Homo sapiens: one gene and its partners. The protein of the gene in region 3 purifies or fractionates together with the protein of the main gene of each other region. This does not show direct contact. Each region holds a gene or a part of one and is shown on either strand. Other genes may lie near its edges. The genes, in order: CLNS1A, PRKCI, FARP2 and CCDC88A.

Evidence for each region.
Region 1: the proteins of FARP2 (region 3) and CLNS1A purify together in Homo sapiens (affinity purification with mass spectrometry; 3 studies listed by BioGRID and IntAct, with this or other methods). This does not show direct contact.
Region 2: the proteins of FARP2 (region 3) and PRKCI purify together in Homo sapiens (affinity purification with mass spectrometry; 2 studies listed by BioGRID and IntAct, with this or other methods). This does not show direct contact.
Region 4: the proteins of FARP2 (region 3) and CCDC88A purify together in Homo sapiens (affinity purification with mass spectrometry; 2 studies listed by BioGRID and IntAct, with this or other methods). This does not show direct contact.

The regions. Positions count from the first base shown.
Region 1 is NC_000011.10:77,627,786-77,634,814, forward strand, and holds part of CLNS1A (methylosome subunit pICln), read right to left. Parts: intron 2,115-7,029; coding exon 1,978-2,114; intron 1-1,977. UniProt on the Homo sapiens protein: Involved in both the assembly of spliceosomal snRNPs and the methylation of Sm proteins.
Region 2 is NC_000003.12:170,225,404-170,232,432, forward strand, and holds part of PRKCI (protein kinase C iota type), read left to right. Parts: intron 1-7,029.
Region 3 is NC_000002.12:241,352,469-241,359,307, reverse strand, and holds the start of FARP2 (FERM, ARHGEF and pleckstrin domain-containing protein 2), read right to left. Parts: upstream 3,024-6,839; 5' UTR 2,920-3,023; intron 1-2,919. UniProt on the Homo sapiens protein: Functions as a guanine nucleotide exchange factor that activates RAC1. May have relatively low activity. Plays a role in the response to class 3 semaphorins and remodeling of the actin cytoskeleton.
Region 4 is NC_000002.12:55,290,835-55,297,863, forward strand, and holds part of CCDC88A (girdin), read right to left. Parts: intron 5,690-7,029; coding exon 5,424-5,689; intron 5,223-5,423; coding exon 4,763-5,222; intron 942-4,762; coding exon 877-941; 3' UTR 842-876; intron 331-841; 3' UTR 1-330. UniProt on the Homo sapiens protein: Bifunctional modulator of guanine nucleotide-binding proteins (G proteins). Acts as a non-receptor guanine nucleotide exchange factor which binds to and activates guanine nucleotide-binding protein G(i) alpha subunits.

The DNA of each region.
Region 1 (7,029 bases), on a different chromosome or scaffold from region 3:
GAAATGCAAATGACTTGCCTAGCAAGTTAATGACAGAGTTCTTACTTTTTTTTCTTTTCTTCGACCGTTTTGCTCTGTTGCCCAGGCTGGAGTGCAGTGGCGCGATCTCAGCTCACTGCAACCTCCACCTCCCGGGTTCAAGTGATTCTCATGTCTCAGCCTCCCGAGTAGCTGGGATTACAGGCACCCGCCACCACGCCCAGCTAATTTTTGTATTTTTAGTAGAGACAGGGTTTCACCATGTTGGCCAGGATGGTCTCGATCTCTTGACCTTGTGATCTGCCCCCCTTGGCCTCCCAAAGTGTTGGGATTACAGGTTTGAGCCACTGTGCCCGGCCTAATGACAGAGTTTTCTTATTCAATGTGCTTTTGCCCTTAGGCTAGTATTTATTAAATGCTATTTCCTAAGCCTTTCTCTTGGCATGTACCTTTCCCACCTCCAATGGCCGTCACTATTTGGGGCCATTTCACACCAGCATCTGGAGTTGACTGACAAGAGCAAGGTTTCGCATTTCTGCAAATGAATGAATGCTTTAAACTAAACATGACACATAATATTCTTGGTTATAAAATCATAGTTGCATTTACTTAGATGGAGAGTAAATTTTGTGCCAAATGCCTTATTAGGAAGTCTTACTACACTACTACACCCCAAGGTTAACAGCCTTTTACTTTTCCTCATCCTCTTTTTCAAACTTCACTAGATTTTTAAATGTCTTTGAACCTTTTCCAATGGCAAGAATTTGAAATCTTATAACAAAAATATTTTCAGATAGCTGAATCAGTCATTACCACTTAATGAGGCAGGTCTTGCCAAAAGTCCTAAGAATTACTAAATAGTTTCACACCTGAATATAAATGATCATATTATATCTGGAACCATATTAAAATCTAAATTTGAAAGAGCAATAGCCTTGTAGGTAACTTCATAGGATTGTCTCTTACACACTACTTCAAAGAAAAGCAACCCGTTATTTTAAACATGAGCATCTTCACTAGACTTTTACAAGTCTTTGCAATTATCCCAAAGCAAAACTTGAGAATCTTTATATCCTACAGTTTCTCAACCTTGGCACTACTGACATTTGGATGGAATAATTCTTTGTTGTGGGGGACCATCTGTGCATAGCAGAATATTTAGTATAATAATAGCATCCTTGGCATCTAACTGCTAGACACCAATAATACCCTTCCTCTTTCAACCAAAATGTCACTGCCAAATGTGGGGGAATGGTGAGGTTGGTGGAGGCCCATGGAAAATATATCCCCCCTACAACCACTGAGACCCACTACTGAAACAAAACAAAACAGTTCTATCTTAAATTATGAGAAGCACAGGGTATACTGATCCAAGCCCCTAAGGGTGCCTTTTAAAAAGAGAAAGGCAGAATAAACAGTGAAACTTTAGAGGAAAAGCTAGAAATACATATCCATAATAAATGAAGAATTCTAAGTGTAAATATAGAGAAATATATACAGACACACATGAACATCCATTGTGAAAACTTCAAGTGTCCAAGTTGCTGTGCTGAAATTTTGCTTAATAAACTACTACCCAAAATGAGTCAATGGCCTCAATGTTACATTGATTATTATCAAAGACTCTTTTTTTTCTTTTTTTTTTTTTAGACGGAGTCTCACTTTGTCGCCCAGGCTGGAGTGCAGTGGCATGATCTCGGCTCACTACAAGCTCCACCTCCCAGGTTCACACCATTCTCCTGCCTCAGTCTCCTGAGTAGCTGGGACTACAGGCGCCCACCACCACGCCTGGCTAATTTTTTGTATTTTTTAGTAGAGACGGGTTTTCACCGTATTAGCCAGGATGGTCTCGATCTCCTGACCTTGTGATCCGCCCGCCTCGGCCTCCCAGAGTGCTGGGATTACAGGCGTGAGCCACCGTGCCCGGCCTCAAAGACTCTTTTTTAAAATATAATTTGCTATCAAAGGAGGCATTAGATTAAATTACACCATACATACCTTCAAATTTGGCATTCACCATAACATACAAATGCTCTCCTAGACAGTCACTTCGGTCCCTGGATAATGCATGTAAACTAATGGTGGGGTATTCCAGTGAGAATCCTAATCCAGAGCCATCTAACCAAGACAGGCGGCTGAAAAACATGTTTTAAGTAGATTATTTTTAGAAAGTAAATCCTCATGTAAGACCACAAAGTATATAAAAGTTCAGCTTGGACACCTTTATGCATATAAATAAATTCAAGTTTACTTTTTTAGAAACGTTCATAAAATAAGAAAATTCAGTAGTGGAAACTGAGTTTTCTTTAAGATCAATTCTGTTACGGTCTCTTTCCCTCTAGCTATAAATTCAAACAGACTTGAAATTCCATTTTCCTCAGTCACATGTATGTTTCTATGACTTTCATGCTTACTCTTTTTTGGTATGTCTTCAAATACCCTCTTTGCTTTTGCAAATCCTCCCCTCTTCCATGAGGCCTCCCTTCAACTACACCAGTCCATAAAGATCTCTTCCTTTTCTGATTTGCAAATTTTAGCACTTAACTCTGTGGTAATGAGTCTTATATGTGCCCTTATGGAATGTGAACTATCGGACAGCAGAACTTGTCACATTCCTTTATTAACATCCTTCAAAACCGTTAACAAAGAGCTCAGGAGTTAAGTATGCAATAAATCCTTGGTAATCATGCATTTCTCCATGAATCCTACACTAAAAGACATATATATGAAATGGCTGTAATCACACTCACCGCAAGTCAGGAAATAATTATTACCCTGAGAGACAGATTCCCTGAAGCCTTTCATTTATTCAACGTCTTTAAGAGAAAGCCACAGAAAAGCTAGATCTAGTTTTCCCTCAAATGTGGTCAAATGCAAATATTTTATTGGTGTAACAAAGGAAACACATCACCAAAATCAGTATTTTGAGCTTTCAGTAGAGGCTAGCTAATTTTCTGATAATACTTCATCCATCTGGAGCTGTACCACTTAGCAGAAAAAAAGTAAAAAATCCTGAAGAAGTCAAAAAAAAAATGTTAATGCAATATAGTGGTTGCCTAGGGCTAGAAGGAAATAGGGAATGTCTGCTACTGGGTACCAGGTTCTTTTTGGGGTGAAGAAAATATTCTAAAATGGTGGTGATAATTGCACAATTCTGTAAACAGACTAAAAACTAGTGAATTGTATGTTTAAATGGTTAAACTGTATGCTATATGAATTATTTTTAAAAGTTAATGAAGTAAGACCCCTGTATCATTCTATATTCTATACAATTTTAACAAGCCTGGCTGTCTAATTTCTAACCAAGCAAAAACAAAAGTAAAACAGGAGAACCTAGGACTGCCTTGGGCAGGAACAATGACAGTGTGACAGTCTGAGATCACTCATGTTCAGTGGAAGGGGAGGATGAACTTTCCACCTCAGTTCCCCTAAATGAAATCAATGTCTAACCACATGACCCTCAGTTACCGAAAGCATTACCAAAAACAAAGGCAGATTATTAGATTGTGGTGATAACTGTACAACTCTGTAAATATACTAAAACTTACGTAATTGTATACTTTTTTTTTTTTTTTTAGACAGAGTCTCGGTCTGTCGCCCAGGCTGGAGTGCAGTGGCGGATCTCGGCTCGCTGCAAGCTCCGCCTCTCGGGTTCACGCCATTCTCTTGCCTCAGCCTCCCCAGTAGCTGGGACTACAGGCGCCCGCCACCACACCCGGCTAATTTTTTGTATTTTTAGAGACGGGGTTTCACCGTGTTAGCCAGGATGGTCTGGATCTCCTGACCTCGTGATCCACCCGCCTCGGCCTCCCAAAGTGCTGGGATTATAGGCATGAGCCACCACACCCTGCCCCTAATTGTATACTTTCAAAAGGCAAAAGTAAGAATATATGCACTGTCATGTGGAAAGATTTCTATCCAACATTCTTATTAAAAAAAAAAAAGTAAAGGAAAACTAGGAAGCTTATAAGTGATAAATCTTTGTTTTTTTGAGATGAAGTCTCACTCTGTCACCCAGGCTGGAGTGCAGTAGCATGATCTTGGCTCACTGCAATCTCCACCTCCAGGGTTCAGGCGATTCTCCTGCCTCAGCCTCCCAAGTAGCTGGGATTACAAGCGTGTGACACCACGCCTCGCTAATTTTTGTATTTTTAATAGAGATGGGGTTTTGCCATGACGGCCAGGCTGGTCTCAAACTCCCGACCTCAGGTGATCTGCCACCTCGGCCTCCCAAAGTGCCAGTATTACAGGCGTGAGCCACTGCGCCTGGCCTAAAAGTGATAAATCTTAAAGAGCTAAAAGTGATAAAACCTCTACAAATTGTTTTCCAGAACAACTCATTCCTACTGGTTCCAAAGAAACATTGTATTATGTAATGAGGTTATGTGCTGTATGCATCTTTCCTGCCCACTGCTTTCCTTTTAATGTGGAGAGGAAATAATGCCCAAGTATCACGAGTCCCCTACAAAAGCTGTATTATTTTAAAGCAAATAAACTGCCCTTTTCTGATCTCAAAAATTTTCTGGCGTTATCACAATTCAGAAAGAAACATTCCAAATTTGGGTGTCCAAAATAATTTCAAATATCCAGAGCCATAAAACTTGAATGACTCAATGACGACATGGAAAAACTGAAACCTAAACATAGAATGAGTGCCTATCAAATTATGGCCTTCACTTTTAAAAGCCATCATAATACCTCTGTAATTCCTTACTAGTGCAGAGAGAATACAAATGCTCCTCTGCACAGCATTTGCTATGGAACTCTCATAATCTTTTACATGAACTGGGATTATGCATTCTATAGGACAGAAGCCAAGTTCCACACTTAAAAACACTTATTCTAATCGTTAAATTCTTTTTTTTTTAAATAAAAAAAGAAAAGAAACCCTAGGTTTCTGTATTTTACTTTTTCAGATTTACAAATGCAAATCATATATTAATATTCACAGATATTTTTAAATGGGAAAACAACTTACTTTCAACAACTTATTTTTTCCAACAGCATGTTACTATGTTAAAAAAGATTTGACATTATAAGCCGAGCGTGGTGGCTCAGGCCTATAATTTTGGGAGCATTTTGGGAGGCCGAGGTGGATGGATCACCTGAGGTCAGGAGTTCCAGACCAGACTACCAACATGGCGAAACCCTGTCTCTATTAAAAATACGAAAATTAGCTGGGTGTGGTGGCAGGCACCTGTAATCCCAGCTACTTGGGAGGCTGAGGCAGGAGAATTGGTTGAATCCAGGAGGCGGAGGTTGCAGTGAACCAAGATCACGCTACCACACTCAAGCCTGGGCAACGGGGAGACTCCATCTCAAAAAAAAAAAAAAAAAAAAAGAGATTTGACAGTACATTCATTTAATCTGGCAATTTTAATTTGAACAAATACCTATTAACAACAAATTAAATCCTATTGCACATGAATTATTTGTTGCACCACCACCAGATTTTCTAATTCTAGCAGAGGCCACGATGAAATAGGCCAGACATGCTGCCATTAAAGTTTGCTGGGATGATTGTAATAAATCTACTGAAAGTATTCAAGTTCTAACTTTCAAAGTGATGTAGAGAAACATAAAAGATTTCACTGTATCATCTAAAAATATAACTGTTTTGTCTGATCATTAAATTCTGATTTGCATTTACTCTTTGTATATATTCTAGAAGAAATCCTTCTAAAACATTTAATTAATCATACCCAGTTCCAAAGAAACCGTGAGTCAAAAGGGAAAGACAAGAAGAATTAGACACAGAGTAAACATGTAGAGAACATGTTTTGCTGAATTCAAATGCTTTTGCACAAGTATGGTGAGTGTCCTTTATTCCCAGCACGGGATGAAAAACAGGACAGGAAGCTAAGAGAGGTCTTGAATTTGGGTTAACTTAATTATTTGGTTTAAGATTAATTTTGGAATGAGATACAAAAAAAAAATTTTAAGTTTAAATTACCTAATTTTAATTTGATTACCTATTTTACCTGTTTTAAACTGTCTATTTTATATTATTCATGCCTCTGTATCTTCCTTATTTGGATAAAAATTCAACTTCCTGGCCGGGTGCAGTGGCTAACACCTATAATCCCAGCATCTTGGGAGGCCGAGGCAGATGGATCATCTAAGTTCGGGAGTTTGAGACAAGTCTGACCAACATGGAGAAATCCCATCTCTGCTAAAAATACAAAATTAGCCAGGCATGGTGGTGCATGCCTGTTAATCCCAGCTACTCGGGAGGGTGAGGCAAAAGAATAGCTTGAACTCAGGAGGCGGAGGTTGCGGTGAGCCAAGATTGCGCCATTGCATTCCAGCCTGGGCAACAAGAGTGAAACTTCATCTCAAAAAAAAAAAAAAATTCAACTTCCTATAAAAAACTAAGCTCTGAAATAAGCCGGAGATTCTAAATCTTTCAACACAAATCTGAGAGACTAAACCAAGTCCAGCCAAACCTAATCTGTTGCTGTCCCTCTCTGCCTCAAACTAAATAGTTTCACCAAAGCCTAAAGGCTATAAGCCAAATTTATGAACATGACTCTCTCCTTCTCCAGCTTTATCATCTCTGGGCATTCTCCCTCACTCCCTCAGATGAAGAACGGCTGGACTGTATATATATGTACACAGTATGTGTGTGTATTTATACCCTTTTTTTGTATTTATGTTTCACACACAAAAAAATTATTTTGGCCGGGCACGGTGGCTCATGCCTGTAATCCCAGCACTTTGGGAGGCCAAGGTGGGTGGATCATGAGGTCAGGAATTTGAGACCAGCCTGGCCAACATGGTGAAACCCCGTCTCTACTAAAAATACAAAAATTAGCTGGGCGTGGTGGAGCACGTCTGTAGTCCCAGCTACTCAGGAGGCTGAGGCAGGAGAATCGCTTAAACCCGGGAGGCGGAGCTTGCAGTGAGCCAAGGTCGCGCCACTGCACTCCAGCCTGGGCGACAGAACAAGACTCTGTCTCAAAAAAAAAAAAAAAAAAAAAATCTTAAAGAAGAAACATAAGAGATTTGTTTGTGAAAAGCTGAAACAAATAATGTTTAATTTTTTTCAGA
Region 2 (7,029 bases), on a different chromosome or scaffold from region 3:
AACAGGTTGGCTAACTAGAACACCTACCTGATTTTAAAATAGAAAATCCTTCCTTTATACCAAGAAATGTGAGAACATTCTGCATTTGAAAAAGTTTTCTTTTCTCTCCAATCTTCTGAAGGGCCATTATTACATAGCATTTCCTCTATCCCTCTACACTTTTCTTTTCTTTTTTTTTTTTTTAAATAGAGACAAGGTCTCACCGTGTTGCCCAGGCTAATCCCAAACTCCTGGGCTCAAGTGATCCTCCTGCCTCAGCCTCTCAAAGTGCTGGGATTACAGGTGTGAGCCACTGTACCTGGCTCCACTACCCTTTTCTAACAATATTTCTTTCCAGTGAATGTTGACTCATTTAATAGCCAGCATTTTTTTTAGTGAAAAAATTGCCCTCTCTTTTCAAAGATGTGTATAGTGTTATTATTCTGTTAAGCTTGATCTCAGTGAAAACGTGTAATCTCTCTAGATCTAATAACATTTAATTTTTTTCTAATTTTTATTTTATTTTATTTTATTTATTTATTTTTTTGGAGATGGAGTCTCGCTCTGTCACCTGGGCTGGAGTGCAGTGGCGTGATCTCGGCTCATTGCAACCTCCGCCTCCCAGGTTCAAGGGATTCTCCTGCGGCTGCCTCCCGAGTAGGTGGGACTACAGGCGCCCACCACCACGCCCAGCTAATTTTTGTATTTTAGTAGAGACGGGTTTTCACCATGTTGGCCAGGTTGGTCTCCCAACTTCTGACCTCAAGTGATCCACCCACCTCGGTCTCCCAAAGTGTTGGGATTACAGGAATGAGCCATCTTGCCCAGCCAATTTACATCTAGTTTTTAAGCAAGAGATTAATAGCACTGAAAATTCAATTTTATTGGACACCACATCTTACTTAGATGCCTTTCTCATGGCCTGCACCCGTCTTTTCCTAGCAAGGAAGCTTTTCAGTGAGGGGCCTTCAGTTATTACCTAGTGCTAGTAGTTTGGAGGAAGAGAAACAGGTTTCATTAATTAGTGATAAACTGTCAATGTATGTGCTTATCCTTATATAAAATTACTTGCTATTATGGGATAGACTTTAACAAGGCAACATCTGGACTGCTCATTTCTTTACATTATATATGTATGGAAATTTTTGCAGAAAGCTTGTGAAAGTTCTTTTTAAACCGCTGCTGTCAAGTAGTAATAACAATACAGAGGATTCCTTCTGTGCACATCTAGAAATAAAAGATTAACTCTTTGCATATTTGGAATAGCTGCTTCAGTGAAGAAGTATGTAGGATTTTTCTTACTGTGAACAAGTCTTGGCAAGACTTGTTTTTGAAAGAAATGCAAGATTATTTTAGCAATATACTTTAGTAATGGTTCTGAGGAAATACAAGTGGTATCTTGAGGGTTGGGGGGATGTTAGCTAATTGGTCTTAGAGCTTCAGCCATGGCACCTAATCCTAGGGCAGCTGATCCATAGCTTGGCCAAAGAGAGAAAAAAATAGAGCATGCTAGCCTGGTGCCAAAAAACCCAAACCAAACACAAAAAACCCTCAGAAATTTGAATGAGAAAATATGGAGATAAAATTGGTCAGCACTGGGAACTGAAGCTGGAGTTGGAGGGAGAGTCTGGCGAGGCCAGAACTGACAATGTGCAAATGAAAGATGTGAAGAAGCAGAAACTGAGGAAGCAAAGGAGAAAGGAGCAACTCTGCACAGAAAAATTCTCCCCACAGGTCCTTAGTTCATGATGGCTTTCTAATGCAACTGCAGCCCTCCTTTTACAACTTTAGTGTCTGTTTTTTTTATGATTGAAATGAGCCTAATTTAAACATAGATTTTAAAAATTCCAGTCTTGCTTAAGATTTCAAATATAACCAGAGATCATTCAAACTGAGTTTAGTAAATATTGTTGAACGTCCGTAATCCAGGCACATGATGCTGTCGTAGGCACAGAGAATGTAGAGGTAGGTAAGGCTCTGCCTTTAAGGAATTAAGAGACTTGTGGAGGGAAGGACATATAAGAGTTACAATAGAAACAATTTAATTTGAAGTACCTATGTAAGGTATTTGCAGGAATAGACGTTGGGGAGGAGTTTGGGGTGATGGAAGCCTTCCTAGAGGAAATGTCTGAGGCTTTTAAAGGATAACTAGGAGTTTGCCTGGTGAATAATGATGTTAGGTGGGTGTTATAGGCATTAAACAACCACATGGTAAGTTTGCAGAATTAAGATCACTTTGGCTGTTAGTCTCATATTCATTCCTTATTAGGATATAAAGTATGAAGTGGGCACTGATGAGAAATGAGGCTAAGAAAGTTCACAGGGGCTAGATTGTAAAGACCCTTGAATGTCATACTGCAGAGTTTAGACTTTTTCTCATTGATGAAAATTCTAAGTAAGAGAAATACATGATCAGATTTGCATTTTAGAAAGATAACACTTGAAATTAGTATGGGAGATGGATTGGTGATGGATGAAACTAATTTGGAGGCTTTTGAAGTAGTCCAGATGAGATATTTTAAGGAGAGAGAAAAGAGTGTATGGATTCGGTGGAAATTTTAAGGGGTAGTATCAGTAGAATTAAAGATAGTCTTGTAGGGGTGACGGGAGTTGGACAACTCATAGGTTTCTCGTTTAAGAGAGACTGGGGAATGTGGAAGAGATTTGTGGGAGAAGTTAATTAATTGGCTGGAACAATTCACTGAATTTTGAGTTCTAGGTGTTTATGAGGCATTCAGGAGGAAATGTCAGAAAGAATGGAGCAATTATTTATTGTCTGTCTACTCTGTGTTGCAAGCACTGTGCTTGACAGCTAACCTATGTAGGAATGTGGCTGAGAACGATAATAGAAACAAAAATGACACCAGTGGCCAAATACAGATCACAAAGGCAAGGCACTAAAACTAAATTTTAAAAATATAGAAATACAGAAAGAGGCTGGGTATGGTGGTTCATGCCTGTAATCCCAGCACTTTGGGAGGTCAGGGCAGGTGAATCACTTGAGCCCAGGAATTGGAGACCAGCCTGGGCTGAATGTGGTGAAACCCTATCTCTACAAAAAAATTAGCCTGTAGTCCTAGCTACTAGGAGGGCGAGGTGGGAGAATCACCTGAGGCCAGGAAGTCAAGGCTGCAGTGAGCTGTGATTGCACCACTGCACTCCAGCCTGGGCAACAGAGTGAGACCCTGTCTCACACACACACAGACATACACACACACAAATATATATATATATACACACACACACACACACACACACATATACATACACACACATATAAAGTTCCCCTGTAGTCTCTCACTCCCACCTTATTTTATTTTATTAGTTTATTTTTATATATTTAAAGGGTACAAGTGCAGATTTCTTTCTTTCTTACATGTTTGTATCATGTAGCCATGAAGTCTGGTCACTTAGTGTACCCATCACCGGAACAGTAAACAGTAAAACCCAGAAAATTACCTGTACCCGATAGGTATTTTTCAACCCTCACCCCCCTCCCACCTTTTGTAGTCTCCAATGTCTACTATTCCCTCTTTATGTCCATGTGTACCCTTTGTTTAGCTCTCACTTATAAGTGAGAATATGTGGTATCTGGCTTTTTGTTTCTGATTTTTTTGACTAGGGATAATGGCCTTCAGTTCCATCCATGCTGGTGTAGAAGACGTGATTTCATTATTTTTTATGGCTGTCTCACTCCCACTTTCTAGAGATAGCCATTGTTAACAGTTAGGGATATTCTATATCATATCGGTATATTTATAAGTATAGATATGTATGTGCATACACACACACAGACATACCCTTTTATTTTTCCAATAAATGAGTTCATATTTCCACACATGCATCTGCAACTTGATTTTAAAAATCGTGGTCATCTTTTCATTCCAGGGTAGACAGACCTCTTTATAGTTGGTAATACAGTGTTCTACAGTTGTTGTTGTTGTTTTAAGAGACAGAGTCTGATTCTGTTGCCTACGCTGGAGTGCAGTGGCATGATCTAGGCCCTCTGCAGCCTCAACCACTCTGGGTTCAAGCAGTCCTCCCACCTCAGCCTCCTGAGTAGCTAGGATTAGCTCACGCCACTAGGCTCAGCTAATTTTTTTTAATATGTTTTGTAGGGACGGGGCTGGTCTCAAGCTCCTGTGCTCAAGTGATTCTCCTGCCTCGGCCTCTCAAAGTGTAGAAATTACAGGCATGAGCCATTGCGCCCAGCCACCATAATATGTTTAATCTTTTTTCGGATTGATGAACATTTAAAGTTGTCTTCATCAACTCACTATTTCAAATAATGTTGAAGGAACCTCCTTATATTTAATACATATTCTTGTAAATATGGTCAAAGATATGCCTATCTTGAAATATGATATTGTTTCCCAAAAGAGCTTAATTTACATTCTTAACAACAGGACTAGTGAAGCTTCTGCCTTATATTCCCATTGCATGTTATCTGTCTTTTAAATTTTTGACTGTCAGATTGGCAAAAAATGGTAATTTATTTTTACAAGTATCTTTTATATATTAATGATCATTTGTATTTCTTCTGGATTGTTCCTATTTTACCCATTTTCTATTGTATTATTTTTCTTATTAATTTGTTGACAGGACATTGACATTTTGTTAAAGTTGCCAGCATTTCCCCAATCTGTTGCTAGTCTGGAGTTTTTCGTTTTTATGTCATCAAACCTGTCCTTTTTAAAAATTTCCTTGATAGTTTCTGGATTTACTGTCTTAGGTAAAAGTGTTTTTCATCTAAAAATATTCTATTTTTCTTCTATTATGCAACTTTTTTTTTTTTTTTTTTGAGACAGAGTCTTGCTTTGTTGCCCAGGGTAGAACCCAGTGGCGTGATCTCGTCTTACTGCAACCTTTGCCTCCTGGGTTCTAACAATCCTCCTGCCTCAGCCTCCTAAGTAGCTGGGATTATAGGCGCACGCCACAACACCCGGCTAATTTTTGTTTGTTTTTTGAGACAAGGTCTTGCTCAGTCGCCCAGGCTGGAGTGCAGTGGCACGATCCTGGCTCACTGCAGCCTCTGCCTCCTGGGTTGAAGTGATTCTCCTGCCTCAGCCTCCCAAGTAGCTGGGATTACAGGCATGCGCCACCATGTCCGGCTAATTTTTTATTTTTAGTAGAGACAGGGTTTTGCCATGTTGGCCAGGCTGGTCCCAAACTCGTGACCTCAAGTGATTCACCCGCTGTGGCCTCCCGAAGTGCTGGGATTTTAGGCGTGAGCCACTGCGCCTGGCTTATTATGAAACTTTTAAAGTGATTATCTTTTCAGTGAATCTGGTATTTTGGGGTTTAGTCATTTATAGGGTACTGACACAACTTTTTTTTTCTCCAAAATTTATTCTAATACCATTATTGGGCAGATTGTCCTTTCACCACTGATTTGAAATGGTAACTCTGTTATGTACTAAATTTCCCACAATGTGCGTAGGTACTTTCTATTGTTTCATTGATTTTAGGGGAGAGATCTATTTTTGCACATACCACTATTGGTTTAATTATTGTAATATTATAGTTAACTTTGATATATGTTATGGAATGGCTTGATTCATTATTTAATTTTTTTTTTTTGTTTTTTTTTTTTTTGAGATGGAGCCTTGCACTGTCACCCAGGCTGGAGCGCAGTGGCGTGATCTTGGCTCACTGCAACCTCCGCCTCCCAGGTTCAAGCGATTCTCCAGTCTCAGTCTCTCAAGTAGCTGGGATTACAGGCAAGGCGCTACCATGCCTGGCTAATTTTTGTATTTTTAGTGAAAATGGGGTTTCACCATGTTGGCCAGGCTGGTCTGGAACTCCTTACCTCAGGTGATCCATCTGCCTCGGCCTCCCGGAGTGTTGAGATTACAGGCTTGAGCCACCGTGCCCGGCCTATTCCTATATATTTTATAATCATGTGCTTTTGTGAATGGGGTCTTCTTGTAGACCTATTACATACTGTTTTCTTTTTGTATGTTTAAATTAAACTTTCCACCTTACTAATAATTTAACTGTCTTAGAATTTTTAAGCTAGATAATGTCATCTGCAAGTAGCAATTTTGCCTCTTCTTTTCTATATCTTATTTATTTATTTATTATTTATTTTATGTTTTTTGAGACAGAGTCTCACTCTGTCGCCCAGGCTGGAGTGTAGTGGCGTGATCTCGGCTCACTGCAACCTCCGCGTCCCAAGTTCAAGTGATTCTCCTGCCTCAGCCTCCTGAGTAGCTAGGATTACAGGCGTGCACCACCACACCTGGCTAATTTTTGTAGTTTTAGTAGAGATGGGGATTCGCCATGTTGGCCAGACTGGTCTCGAACGCCTGACCTCAGGTAATCCACCCACCTTGGCCTCCCAAAGTGCTAGGATTACAGGTGTGAGCCACTGCGCCCAGCCTTATTTATTTTTAGCCATAGGCTAGAATTTTCTAGACAGTATTGAATTATAGTAATAATCTCTTATCTTAGTGAAATATAATAGAAAAATTTCTGTCAATTAAAGAAAAAAGCTTTTAAAGAATTAAAGTTAGTGTTATTCAGAAATGTTACTGAGGCCGAGTGTGGTGGCTCACGCCTGTAATTGTGCCACTGCACTTCAACCTGGGTGACAGAGCGAGACTCTGTCTCAAAAAAAACTCAACTGAAAAAAGTGGAACAAAAGAAAAAGAACCATGATAAGTATTTTGCACTTTTTTTTTTTTTGAGGCACATTTCTACTCTGTCACCCAGGCTGAGTACAGTGGTGTAATCACAGCTCACTGCAGCCTTAACTGCCCAGGCTCACGCAGTCCTCCTACCTCAGCCTCCCAAGTAGTTGGGACTGTAGGCACACACCACTATGTCTGGCTAATTTTTAATTTTTTTGTAGAGACAAGGTCTCCCTGTGTTGCCCAGGCAGGCCTCGAACTCCTGTACCGAAGCGATCCTCCCACATTGGCCTTTCAAAGTGCTGGGATTATGGCATGAGCCACCTTGCCTGGCTGCACTCATTTATTTTCATTTATTTTTCATTTTTTGAGTCAGTGTCTTCCTCCATCACCCAGGCTAGAGTGCAATGACATAGTC
Region 3 (6,839 bases):
GCATCCTACAACATTATAGGGCCTTTTTGTTTTTGAATTTTAAAATGGCAATAAGCTAAAACACCAGTTTAGGGGAAAACAATTCATGACTCTTAAAATAAAACCACTTACAACACTCTAACTACCCTCCTGATCCTGTTCACCTCCTCATGTATTTTTACAACACTATGATTGCTGTGTACACACCATTTCAACTTTTCAGTTAAGTCACATTTTAAAGCATATTTCCATGGATCAAAATGGTTCAAATTTTCCTTGGATGGGAGGATGGGATTCAGCTTGTGGAAGCATGTTTACTTGCTATGGAGTACTCTACCCTACTGACACAACAAAGTTTATCAGATTGTTTTGAAAAGTGTGATTCCAAAATCAAAATCTTTGCCACATACTGCTACTTTCCAAAAAGATTAGACCAATTTATAGAATCACTGTCAACTAAACGCTCCCCAGAAAATCACCAAAGACTGGGCTTTATCATATTGCTTTGTAGGATCCTCAACTTTTCAACTCCCTGTGGCATTGACAAATACGCTATGGTCAAAGGACTCTATATTCTGATCTCAGAGAACATGACCGGAATTACCTCAGCTCAGTATCCAACACTACAATGGGGTTTTGCCTGTATATCTAGCACTATGCTGTGTTTATGAAGCTCATGACGCACTGAGTAAAGGGGAAGCTGGCAAGCTGATATGAAAGTGGGTGAAGGAAAAATAAGAACAAAACTGAAAGGACAAGCAGCAGTAAGAAAAATCTGTTACTGTCCGAATATAGAAGAGGTATTGATGTGACTAGAAGCAGGGGTGTTTGGAAAGGAAGGAAGCAACTGAATTCTTTGGGCCAAATGGATTTAAATGAGCTCACATGGAATTGCCCATGCATTGATCTTTGCTTTGGCAATCCAGTTCATACCATTCCCTCTAAACAGGATAAATTTGCTTAATTATTGCCTAATTTTTTCTCTACTGTTTTTTGTAAATATCCAGGGTTAGCTTGTTCTACTTTCTACTCGGATTATTTGTCCACCTGATAATAATAATGGCTAACATTTATTAAGCACTTACCTTGTGCCAGGCATCTTGTTAACACAGCTTTTTTTATTTATTTTTTTATTTTTTTGAGACAGAGTCTCGCTCTGTCGCCCAGGATGAAGTGCAGTGGCACAATCTTGGCTCAATGCAACCTCCACCTCCTGGGTTCAAGTGATTCTCGTGCCTCAGCCTCTCAAGTAGCTATGATTACAGGCGTGCGCCACCAGCCCAGCTAATTTTTGTATTTTTAGTAGAGATGGGGTTTCGCCCTGTTGAGCAGGCTGGTCTGGAACCCCTGAGCTCATGCAATCTGCCTGCCTCGGCCTCCCAAAGTGCTGGGATTACAGCCACTGTGCCTGGCCAAGTAAATTTTAAACTCATTTTTTGAATAAGGAACCTGAGGCAGAGAGAAATGAATACACCTTATATCAACTTCCTCTTTGGGAAAGGAATTAGTATACAAGGAACCTGGAAATTTACTAACGACTGATAGTCCTATAGGTAAATAAGCCAGCAAACGTCTGCAGTCCAGGAAACTGCATCATCAGCATTTAGTTTGTTAACAGTGAACCACCTAATGAGAATCTGCAACAAGGATAGGGCACATGAGAAGTACAGATGGTATTTGCAAGTACCCTAGGTGTGACCCTAAACTGGTCATTCCACCTCTCTCAACCTCCCTTTCCTCTACTTTAAAACGGGGCTGTGCAACTTGGTCATGTCTCTGAAGAGTTTTGGAAAACTGAATAAATAACGAGCATGAAGTGCTTCCTAAACCTTTAAGGACCTCAAAAAACAAAACAAAACAAAACTTTCAACAAGCAGATGTAGAAAATTTAAATTATATTTGGCCTACAAGTAAAGGTTACTCCATGCTTCCCTACCTCAAATGTCCTCTCCCATCTCTCTGGTACTGAGAAAATCTGTGTCGCCTGTTATAAGGCAGTCTACACAAGACCAACACGCTAACCCACTGCCACCTCAGGGTTATCAAACATTTACACAGTGGCCCAGACAAAAATATCCCACGGAAACAAAACAAAAACAAAAACCCAGAGAGAAAAACCACCCTTTAAAGATTTGGCCTTGGGTTTTAAATTTGCCCATCCCTTTTTAACACTATGTATTGACAATCTTTCCTTCAATGATGCCTTGTTCTAATTTCTGCTTTTCACATCCATTAATGGCACATGATAGGCCAGGGGTTGCTGCCATAGCGTAAACGGAAAAGGTGCCCGTAATTCGGGTGTGTAATGTACTGGGCCATATTCTGGTCCCCAGTTTTCATGGGTTTCCCAAAGGCTACCCACTGGCTTATGAGTATTTCTAGCCCTTAGTGGAGTAAAAATATTAACACCTAACACTTGATTCCCACCTTTAAGATACAATTTAAAGAAATGCTAAAAAGGCAAACGGCTCAAAATGCCTCCACCAGGCACCTCCAGGCCCATACCCTGCGGGTCCCTATGGCCCACTCTGGGGTGTCCTTCCGGGATGGGACACTCCCCGGCCCACGGCCCTGCCGGCCTCCACGGGGCACAACTCAACCCGCGAGTCCACGCGGGACACTCCCCGGTCTACAGCCCCACCGGCCTCCTCCACGCGGCACCCCTCAACCCGGGAGTCCACGCGGGCCACTCCCCGGCCCACCGCCCCGCCTGCCCCCACGCGGCAGGCTCCCTACAGACGGACGCTCCTCTAACCCGGACCCGCCTAGGAGCTCCAGCCGCCTCACGATGGCCTTCAGAGGCCGGGCGGGACCATCTCTGGTGGACCGCGGCCTCAGCGCCCCCCCCGCCTGGGCCTCTCGCCTCGGGCCTCGGGCTTCGCCGCCCACCCGGAGAGGCCCACCCCTGCCCCACGCGCCCAGGCCGCTTCACGTCCTCACCCTCGGCCTCTCGCTCGCCCGCCGCGTCCTCACCGGCCTCGCCCGGCCTCCGCAGTCGCAAGCAGCAGCCGCCAGACTCGCGTCGGCGTCGCCTGCTCCCAACTGCCCGCCGGCAGCCCCCGCGCAGCGCGCCCCGCCCTGACCCCGCCCCCGCGACGCGGACGCGCAGTCGATTGGCCTGCGGGGCGCCAGGGCGGAGCCTTCCCGTCCCGCGGCCTGAAAGCGCAAGATCGAGTTCTGATTGGTGAACGGACGGAGAAGGGGCGGGAGCAGGCAGGCAGCTGCGTAGGATATAAATCTGTGCAGCGCTCGGCTCGTTGGGCGGGGCGTCGGCTTGCTGAGCGAGGCAATGTCCTAGGCGAAGCCAAGGCTCGCTGGGCGGGGCTAGATCTTGGGCGGGGAGTCGGCTCGTTGGGTGGGGCTAGGTCCTGGGCGGGGAGTCGGCTCGCTGGGCGGGGCTAGGTCCTGGGCGGGGAGTCGGCTCGCTGGGCGGGGCTAGGTCCTGGGCGGGGAGTCGGCTCGCTGGGCGGGGCTAGGTCCTGGGCGGGGAGTCGGCTCGCTGGGCGGGGCTAGGTCCTGGGCGGGGAGTCGGCTCGCTGGGCGGGGCTAGGTCCTGGGCGGGGAGTCGGCTCGCTGGGCGGGGCTAGGTCCTGGGCGGGGAGTCGGCTCGCTGGGCGGGGCTAGGTCCTGGGCGGGGAGTCGGCTCGCTGGGCGGGGCTAGGTCCTGGGCGGGGAGTCGGCTCGCTGGGCGGGGCTAGGTCCTGGGCGGGGAGTCGGCTCGCTGGGCGGGGCTAGGTCTTGGGCGAGGTCTAGGCTCGCTGGGCGCGGATAGGTGCTGGGCGAGGCCTAGGCTTGCTGGGCGCGGATAGGTGCTGGGCGAGGCCTAGGCTTGCTGGGCGCGGATAGGTGCTGGGCGAGGCCTGGCTCGCTGGGCGGGGATAGGTCTTGGCCCGGGCCTTGCCGGCTGTCCTTGCACCCTTTGGCTCAGTCCCTGGCTGCCAGCCTCCTCCTTCCTCCAACGCATTGCATCCCTCGTGGGACTACAGGGACCGAAGGGGATCATCGAAGGATCGCGCGAGGCTGTGCTAAGGCTGAGACAGGCTGCTCCGTGGTGGCGGCCAGGACGGCCTTCCTCTGGCCTAGGGACCCCCACCCGAGAATGGAAGACTGACTTGCTGTGGCACACTTCCCTTCTCTTGAGAAGTTCATTGAACTCCTATGTGTTCTTCAAGACCCTACCCATCGTGCTCTCCTAGCCCGGCCCTGTCACCCACTGTCACCATGTGGCTGTTGAGGGAATAATTAACTTCAGGAAACACCCGGGCACTTAAGAGACTCCTCCTATGGTGCTGTGGATTCCAGAGTGAAACCTGACCCTTCGTTTCCCAGAAGCCCAGACAGGAGAAATGCTGGCTCAGGGGAACCTCCATTTCTCCTGAGACAACTATGGGGTCTGAGACCCAGGCACACCAAGACTGGGCTCAGCTGTGCGGGATGCTCCCCTCATGTGCCACCCACCTCTGGGGCTTTTCCTTTAACCAACCCCCAATGACACCACCAGGCCCAGAGTGGTGCACACACCCCAGAACAGAGGATCCCTGCCTGCAGACGGGCAGGGCCGGGTGGGGATAGTGCAGGTGAGAGCCTGGCCAGAGGGTGGTACTGACCCCTGGTAGGATGCAGGGTGTGTGCTGGTGACCTGAGGCTGGCAGTCTGGAGGGAAGGCAGCAGGCGTGGCAGCTGTCAGCTGAGGAACTAGAGAGAGCAAGTTTCAGTATCCAGGGGTCTGTCTATAAGGAAGCTCAGAAAACACTGATAGCAAGGTAAAAGGGGCCCAAGGTGGTCCTGGGATGATCAGTCCAGTGGGCAGGAAGAAGGCTAGAGGCCTTGGAGTGTAGGTGTCCAGCCACCCAGATCAATTCAGGTTTCCAGTTTCCTTTACTCAAGTGGCAGAGCCGCCTTAGCCTATTCTTGAAAATTTATAGGTTAGAAATTTCTTCCTAGATATATTTCAATCATTCACTTATATTTCCAGTAATTTAGTAGTTGCTATTATCAATGCGATTTCTTTTCTCACTACATTTTCTAATTAGAAAATAGATATCACTGACTTCTTAGTGTTAATTTTCACCAGATGTCTTGTACTTTCTAAGTAGATGTTCTGATCACCTGTAAATAATTCCTTTCCAATCTTTTGTGCTTTCTTTTGGGCTGGATCTCCAATACGTACAAACTTGTCCAGTACTGACACTATTGATTCAAGTAATTTTTCTTGATTTTATACAAAGATGTTGTCAAGACTTTGAATTTTCCCAGAAAACCTCACAACTTTCCCTTGCAAATAACCAAGAGAAATACTCATTTAATATCTAAACAATAGTGCTTTATTGATAAAAGGTTAGTTTAAATGGATACAAAATTGCTGTGTAAAATAAGTGTTTTCAAAATACATTTCTATAGGTAGAGACTATGTCTTAGTAAAAGAGCAGTTATCTATTATCAAAAGTATCTATTTAGATTTGGGTAGTAAAACCAAAGGGGATCAGAAGTGTAGCAGTGTGGGTCCTCCCTCCCTGCATAGCTGTTACCAGGAGGCAGCGTGCCTGAAGTACTTTCACTCACATATGCGGGGCTTAGTCACTAGCAAACTTGTTTTTCTTTTTTACAGATTTTCCAGCAAAGTTATTAAATGTCAAACTCAAATAATGGACTCCGCATGGATGTACTCTGAAGTCATGGAACACCACTTCTTAGTTACCTTCACACAATAAGCCATAACATATAGCTTTTGGCTGTTCACAATTAAGCAACAGTGAAGGGCAAAGTTAGCAAGAACACCAGATTATTTTCTGTAGCACACCTTCATTAACTATTATTATTTAACTGCCTCATTTTATGTTTTTTCTAGCCCCCACAAAAATGAAAAAACCCTGTCTCATCCTCAGATTAAGCATTTTCTCCATCTCCCTACACAACCATTGTCTCCTTTCATCTGTCAATTTCTGGGGTTGAATTTCCCAACTTCAGTAGAAATGATAAAAAAGGCAACCGCTGGAGTGTACCATAAGGAGACACAAGAAGAAAGGTGACACTAAGGCTACAGTGCACAGAAAACAGACCAGGTGTGGCTTCGACTGTGCGGACCTGCCCACTAGCCTATGCTACAGATTTGAAATGTCTTTCACTTTGACATGACACACGGTTTATATTACACAAAATGAATGAAACGACAATGGCTAAAAATAAATGAGACAGCCTGCACACAAAAAGATGATGACTGCTACTTTCCTCCCATCAGAAAATTACTCAAAAAGGGAGTATTTAAAGGAAACTCAAATCAGGAGAACCCGGTAGGCATCAGAGGTTCAGGGCACCAAGGCCTTAGGGCGGGAACACTTTTCAACCCAAGCCAGGCTTCAGGGGCACGCCCACCAACAGACCCCAATTTCCACAGGGGAGGCAGATCTTCTATACCTACAGTGACAGAAAATACACTAAAGTGCAGTATAAAATATAAAAAGGTTTGATTCTGAATAGACCAACTGCTAATTTTCCTTAAAAAAATTTTTAATTTGGTTGAGTAAAAACCAAATTAGTTCACTGAATCTCATTTTGTAGGTAAGAGTCTTATTTGCAATACGAAAACTGGAGCTTATGACTGCTTTGATTTTCTCTGTAGCACAGGATAACCAGTATTAGTGGAGAACACTACAAAAGGTGGCTTGTGGTGAGTTCTTTGCATAGTGGTTTTAAAAACAACCTAGCATCAGAATTAAGAGACTTCTTTAAAACTCACCTCTAAAAAAGCTGTTTAAGTATAAAGATATATCTCATTAGGAAATTCTATTATGTTTTATTTGGTTAACAGATAAAATCGCAGACGAATCAACAGTATAGAATTATAGCAGCAAAACTGGTTT
Region 4 (7,029 bases), about 190 Mb from region 3:
TGATGAAAAAAGCAGATTGTTCTTGGAGTACTTCTTTAAACACTTAACCTTAAAACACCTGGTCCTTAGTGAGAGAACGTCCTTTATTCAGTAGATCTTAACAGTACAAGGTATAGTAAGTCCTAAAACCTTTAAAAAATTTTGGCAGTTGAATCCAGTAGTGCTCCTTGATTCAAGGAATGAAGGTTTGTATTTCTTGCCTGCTCTATTCACGAAGGACTGTTAAAAGTCTCCTTAAAGATTTTTAAAAATGATTCCTATAGTTGCTAGGTGTCTTGTTACTTCAGAAATAAAGGCTTCATACTGAGAAACTGAAGGACACTTTTCTCTCTGTATTTAGTTGGAAGGTAGAAAGAAGAAAGAAAATATAAGAAAAGCTTAAAGATAAGAGAGACACAAAATACAGAGCAGCCACTATAAGAACAGCATGCACCAGGTATTTCTATAAGAATGAGAATGACAGACAATCAGAGATAATTTTTGAGTGGCTCATCATAGAATAGGCATTTAGTCATTAATTTTCAAGAAAACTGTGGGGAAGTTGTATTCCTACCACAAAAGGCTTCAAACTAAAAAAGTAATTCCTAGAACATAATTCACTAGTAAAATTAAATTTAAAGTGACAAAAAAACTTAAAAAAAAATACTTGTTCCTTGCGCTGACAGGTAAAAACCTATGGCAGCCAACTAATCTTGCTTCACTAGTAAGTAGAACAGAAAGTCAATGAATTAAGCAAGCAATATTTACATCTGTTAATGCAATGTGCACTTGTTTCACACTTAATTTGGTTAGTTTGTATAAATGAGACTAATCTCATTTACATTTTAAGCAGGAAACTCACCACTTGGCCCACATGTCATGTAGTGGGTAATAGAATTAGGAGCTTTGTTGCTCCCTAGACCTGCTTTTTGAATTTCTGCTTTCTTGTACTTTGTCCACATCTGCAGGAGAAAAGCATTTCATGTTATTTAGTCAAAGATGAAACAAAATACAATTCAGAAGATAAGAAATACACTCTCACTGAGTAGGGCAAGGAGAAGGAATCTGTAACTGTCTGGGAAAATTATTAATCTCATAGGCATCTCAATACTTAAAGATCGATTTTTATATTTTAAAGCTATAAGTAATATTCCTAGGAAAGCTATAATTTTTAAAAAAACTATAACAATTACATTTCCCCCCCTCTTAGTGCCAGATAGCCTTACTATGTTTATTTACTAAATGGTCACCTACAGTCTTAAACATAATCTTGCATGTAGTAGCAAAACCATCTGGAATGAAGTATTTGTATTATTTACTAAGAAAACCAGGGCTTGATGCATATTTTATAGGCAAATAATGTTCCTCCTTACATTGGTTAAAGCTAAAATTGCTTTGGTCAAAGGGGATGCAGTGCATAAGAATATGTTTATAATTTCTAGAAAGCTAGGCCAGGAATACTGAAAGCTATCCAGCTTCATCATTTATAAAATTAGGGTACTGAATCTTCGAATAGTTTTACAAATAATCCTTTTGAAAACTGGAGGTGTCTTAGAGGAAATAAGTGCAATTGCTCAATTGAGTCAGAGTTGTTTCACTTTTACTTTAAATGAAATTCATTTTTTAAAATTTGGGGCATCTATGTAAGATTTCACTTACAGAAAGTATTGTTTTTTTTCTTAAATGTTTGGGACACATCGGTTCCATATGATTTCTAAGGTATTTTCACCACTAAAAATTTGATTCCAAATGCTATGAAAAAACGTTGATAAGAACTAGTGTTGTGGCCAGTCGCAGTGGCTCACGCCTGTAATCCCAGCACTTTGGGAAGCTGGTCAGGAGTTGGAGACTAGCTTGGCCAACATGGTGAAACACCGTCTCTACTAAAAATACAAAAATTTGCTGGGCGTGGTGGCATGCTCCTGTAATCCCAGCTGCTTGGGAGGCTGAGGCAGGAGAATTGCCTGAATCCAGGAGGCAGAGGTTTCAGTGAGATGATATCACGCCACTGTACTCCAGCCTAGGCTACAGAGTGAGATTCCATCTCAAACAAACAAACAAAAAGAACTAGTGGTGTTTTGGGGGGAATTTTATGACTCCACAGCAGGTGATGATTTCTGAAGTCCAGACTGTATTTTCCAACAGTCCTCAGGACACATGGACATGATACATATTTCTCTTATATGCACAGTGTATTTTTTTTTTTTTTGGAAACATGCTGCATATAAACATATAGCTTTTTGGGTAGGAAATAGTTCTTTTCTGTAAGTCTAATTTTGTAAAATAATCACATAATTTTAATATAATAGCATGTGATTTTTCAATGAATTTTGAATGAATAAATACAATATTTTGAAGTGTTATGGTCAGAATTATGATATCTAAAAAGTTGAAATAGCTGTGAAATAATCTTTGACTCAGTGTGGAAAAGAAATAACACTAATTATAACATTTGTGTCATATACTGCCCCCATTTAATCTCAGCTATGTTTACTATTAAGTTTTGTTACTGGCCTATGAAAAAACAAAAGGGAAAATATTAGCACCAAATATATTTGAAATGTCAGGACTGACTGGGAAGTAACTGACAATAAAATAGAAGGATGCAAAAAGTATATTAGGTGGTACTAAAATATGACAATCCTCTGATTGTGTTCATTTGATTACCTGTACCAGAACCATTTTTTTTTTTTTTTGTAATAGCTATCGGAAAAAAAGTGTGATTACAAAGGAGACAAATTTCATTAGGAAATATTCTCTACAGATTTTTTCTTTGGTCCAGTTAATAACCACTTAATACAACAACAACAACAACAAGTATAACATAATTTCATCCCCACATGGTCACATTTGAAGGCATTCCTTCCAGGTGCCAGGCTGAGTCCTTATCAGCTATAGGCTAAATCCAAATGGCAAAAAACATTCCAGAGAGAATGCCAATGTGTATTTCTCTGGAAGTAAATGGATCAGGGTTATGGGTTTTTTTGTTTTTAGCAATCTGGGAGTTAGAGATTCAAATTTAGCTAATTTGCTTTAAAAGTGCTGTGAACACAAAAATAAAAGTTCTTTGCACTGGAGTCAAAGTTAACAAATATTTTCTTACTTTTTTTTTTTTTTTTAAGCTAAAGAGTGTATTTATTCTTAGTTCTAAAATTTGTTCTACTAGAAACATACTTGTTTAAATGGTTACAAGTTCTAATTTTACATTTTAGTGTGATTATTCATTTAAAAAAAATTCTGTTTTAAGGATATACATGTATAATTTAATAATAGATTAATTATAGAAGTAACAATTTTTACCACTTTGTAAACTTGCTACCCTTTTTGATTAGAAGTAAAAATACAAATTTCCAACACAATGAATATAATTTGGTTTATTTCTCTTTGACTCTCTATAAAAAAAGAACTGGAAAAACTATTGTATTAACTGATTTCAAGTATAGAAGCCATCTTGAAGAAAAGACAGTTACTTGAGCTCTTGTATTTATCAGATGATGAAAAGTGCAGAGAAGAAACAATAAATACAAATGTTCCTAGTCACTGTGTAAATCACATTTAAATTTGATGGGGTTTTCTAAGAATAACACTAAGTTTATAAGTATTAACAATCTTTTAAATCTGAAAAATGTTTTATAAATATGGGTATTAGTTAATATTTGTTATATAAAGTGTTGAATTATTAACTATTTCTTTAAAACAGGACAGATGGCCTAATTAAATGACAAAAGAAAACAACATCTTTTTACATTTTCCCTACTGATACTGTACATATGTAATATAAAGTACACATTCTGGAAGAAAAAAAGGAGTGACAGTCAGAGCAAGTGAGGGGTGGGAAGAGGAGGAAGGGAGGGAGGAAATGAACATTTTTTTCCAGAAGCAACAAAGCAAATATGACTTGGAAATGTCTTCTTGGTAAGAGAGCATGCAACTGTTTTAACATGCTTCTGGATATCAAAGTAACAATCTTATCAGGCAACAAAAAATGTGAAGGAGGAGCATGTATGGTTAAGGTTTTTAAAGGCATGCAGAAAATGGACAAAGTAATTAATATTTCATGCAGGTTTTGGTGTGGTTACACATTCACATTAATATACATGCCATCATGTACAGCTGAACACTGTGCAACAATTTTAAATAAAAAATAAAAACCTAGCCAAATGATATTTTGTTAACAGCAACTTTTCAAATCATATTAGAGAAGCAGTGTATATCAAATAACATCAATATATTATATTGTGCAGTTTTGATCATATACAACCATATTCATACCAAACAGTTTGATTATCCTCAGAAACCAACAATGCAGCTTCTGTGTCATCAGGATAGAGGCATGCAGAAGTGACAAGATTGTTGCTATTTATAGAAAACTGTAGGTTACTGTTACTAGGGTTCTGATGATCAGAAAACTGTTCATTTTCTTTCTGTGCAGGTTTATCCAAAGAGGCAGAAGCCTGGTCAGTTATTCTGATAACTGGCCTAGGAGGTAACCCACTTATGTTACTAACTAATTCTGTATTCAGGGATAAGAATGGCTGAGATGAATGGGCCACAGTAAATGGTCCTATGCTATCTTTTGCCAACATTCCGAATGCATCACTAGGCATCCTAATAGTGGCAAAAGTTTGGTTTAGAAAATGTGACCTTCCTGTTCTTGAGTTTCTAGCCTGGGCATATAGAGGCTCAGGCATGTCTATAGCTAAATCATTTTGGGCACAAGAACCTATAGTATGTGTTGGGATGTCAAGTATATGAGAGGACCACTGGTGTAAATGGTACTCACTAGATGCTGCAGTGGTGTTGCTGTCAGCAGCAGCTGGTGGTGAATCAACTGATATAGGCAGTCTACTGTCCTTGGTCAAAAAATCATGGATGCTTGTCCTTCGTGTAGTTCCTTCGGCAGTTGAGATCACGCTGCTTGCACGAGGTAAAGTTGCATAAGGGTTACTATCTTTTGATTGTCGTGACAGAGAAGATTCTTTTACTAATTTTATTTTTCCTTGAGTGCCTGGTGTAGGTTTTCCCGCAGAACTAATGAAGTAGGTATCTTCAGTTTTTCGAGGACCAGGTCTCAAAAACTCAGGCTTAGTTGTCCGTCTATCATAGAAGTCCCCTGGGGTTTTTCCACTTACTGACCTGGCCAGACCACAGCTAACTGGTTTGTCTTTTCCCAAAAAGTCAGAAGAGACAGACAAACTTTTCATTACTTCATCTAAAAGATTCTCTTGACTTGAGGACTTTATCTGTTTAAAAAAAAATTCAAAGCAGATTAGTGAATATAGTGCCATGTTTTTACTTTCCTGATTTAGCAGACTGTGCAATATAAAATTGTGGTACCTCTTAATACTCCTTAACTTACCAAAAAAAAAAAGCTCTGAAGTTCAATTACAGAAATTTAACTTGTGGTGTTCATCTAAATTAAGGTCATCATAGATAAAACTAACCTGTACTGAGGTAAGCTTATTGCTTTCTTCCAAAAACTGTTGTAGAGTAACAACTTCACTTCCAGGGGAACCAGTTTTGATCTTGTGATGTCGACTCTCCAGTGTTTCAGATATTTTGTGCTGGAGCACTGGGCTTGATCTGGTCTGTCTTTTCAAGTACTGGATTGGACTGCTACCACTGCTGGACCAAGCCTCATGGTCATGAAGCAGGCTAAATTCTCCACTGCTGTGGCTTTGTGGCCTGCTTTGGTTATTAACTGCACCTGCTTTTGGAGTAAATGGGGTGTTGAGATTTCAATAATAGAATTGAGATTAATACTTCATGAGTAATAACATTTGTTGACTGTGTGCTAATTATATGAACAGCCAAATTTACTTTCAAGCTTTATTTAGAAATGCTTAGTAAACCATGTCAATCTTTTATCAGTCTAACAATTGTCTGCCATAGCCTGCTTCCTTATTTTGTCAAACTGACAACTATTGTAAGCTCCATAAGGGCAAAGACTTGCTTTTACTATCATACTCAGAGCCTAAACAGAGCCTCATACAAAGCATTCAATATATTTTTTGAGTAAATGAATGAATAAATAAGTGAATAATATATTTTTTAAAATTCAGGTTCAAATAGTTATAAAATGCCTTGCAGGCCAGGCGTGGTGGCTCACGCCTGTAATCCCAACACTTTGGAAGGCCGAAGCAGGCGGATCACGAGGTCAGGAGTTGGAGACCAGCGTGGCCAATATGGAGAAACCCCGTCTCTACTAAAAATACAAAAAATTTGCCAGGCGTGCTGGTGCACGCCTGTAGTCCCAGCTACTCAGGAGGCTGAGGCAGGAGAATTGCTTGATACTGGGGGGGTGGAGGTTGCAGTGAGCAGAGATCGCGCCACTGCACTCTGGCCTGAGACTCTGTCTCAACAATAAAAATAAATAAAATAAAATGCCTCACAATTTAGGATAAGAACATGATTAGACAAAATATATATATATATTTCATCTAATGTGTATTTTTATATATATTATATATAATATATATAATTTATATATAATTATATATAAATATATAATATATAATATATAAATTTATATATTATATATAAATATATATAATATATATTATATATAAATATATATTATATATAAATATACATATGTGTGTATTTTTTTTTTTTGAGATGGGGTCTCACTGTGTCACCCAGGCTGGAATGCAGTGGCACGATCTCAGCTCACTACAACCCCCGCCTCCTGGGTTCAAGTGATTCTCTTGCCTCTGCCTCCCAAGTAGCTGGGATTACAGGCATGCGCCCCCATGCCAGGCTAATTTTTGTACTTTTAGTAGAGACGGGGCTTCACCATGTTGGCCAGGTTGGTCTGTAACTCCTGACCTCAGGTGATCTGCCCACCTCGGCCTCACAAAGTGCTGGGATTACAGGTGTGAGCCACCGCACCTGGCTCATTAGGTGAATTTTATATTATTTCAGTATGTTAAGACCAAAAACTGTTCTAAATGCAGAAAATTCTATTTTAATTATTTGCTTATCTAAGAAGTCCTCATTACTACTTGAAGGCTTCTCTGTTCATCCTGCATGGATAACTTTAAACATTTA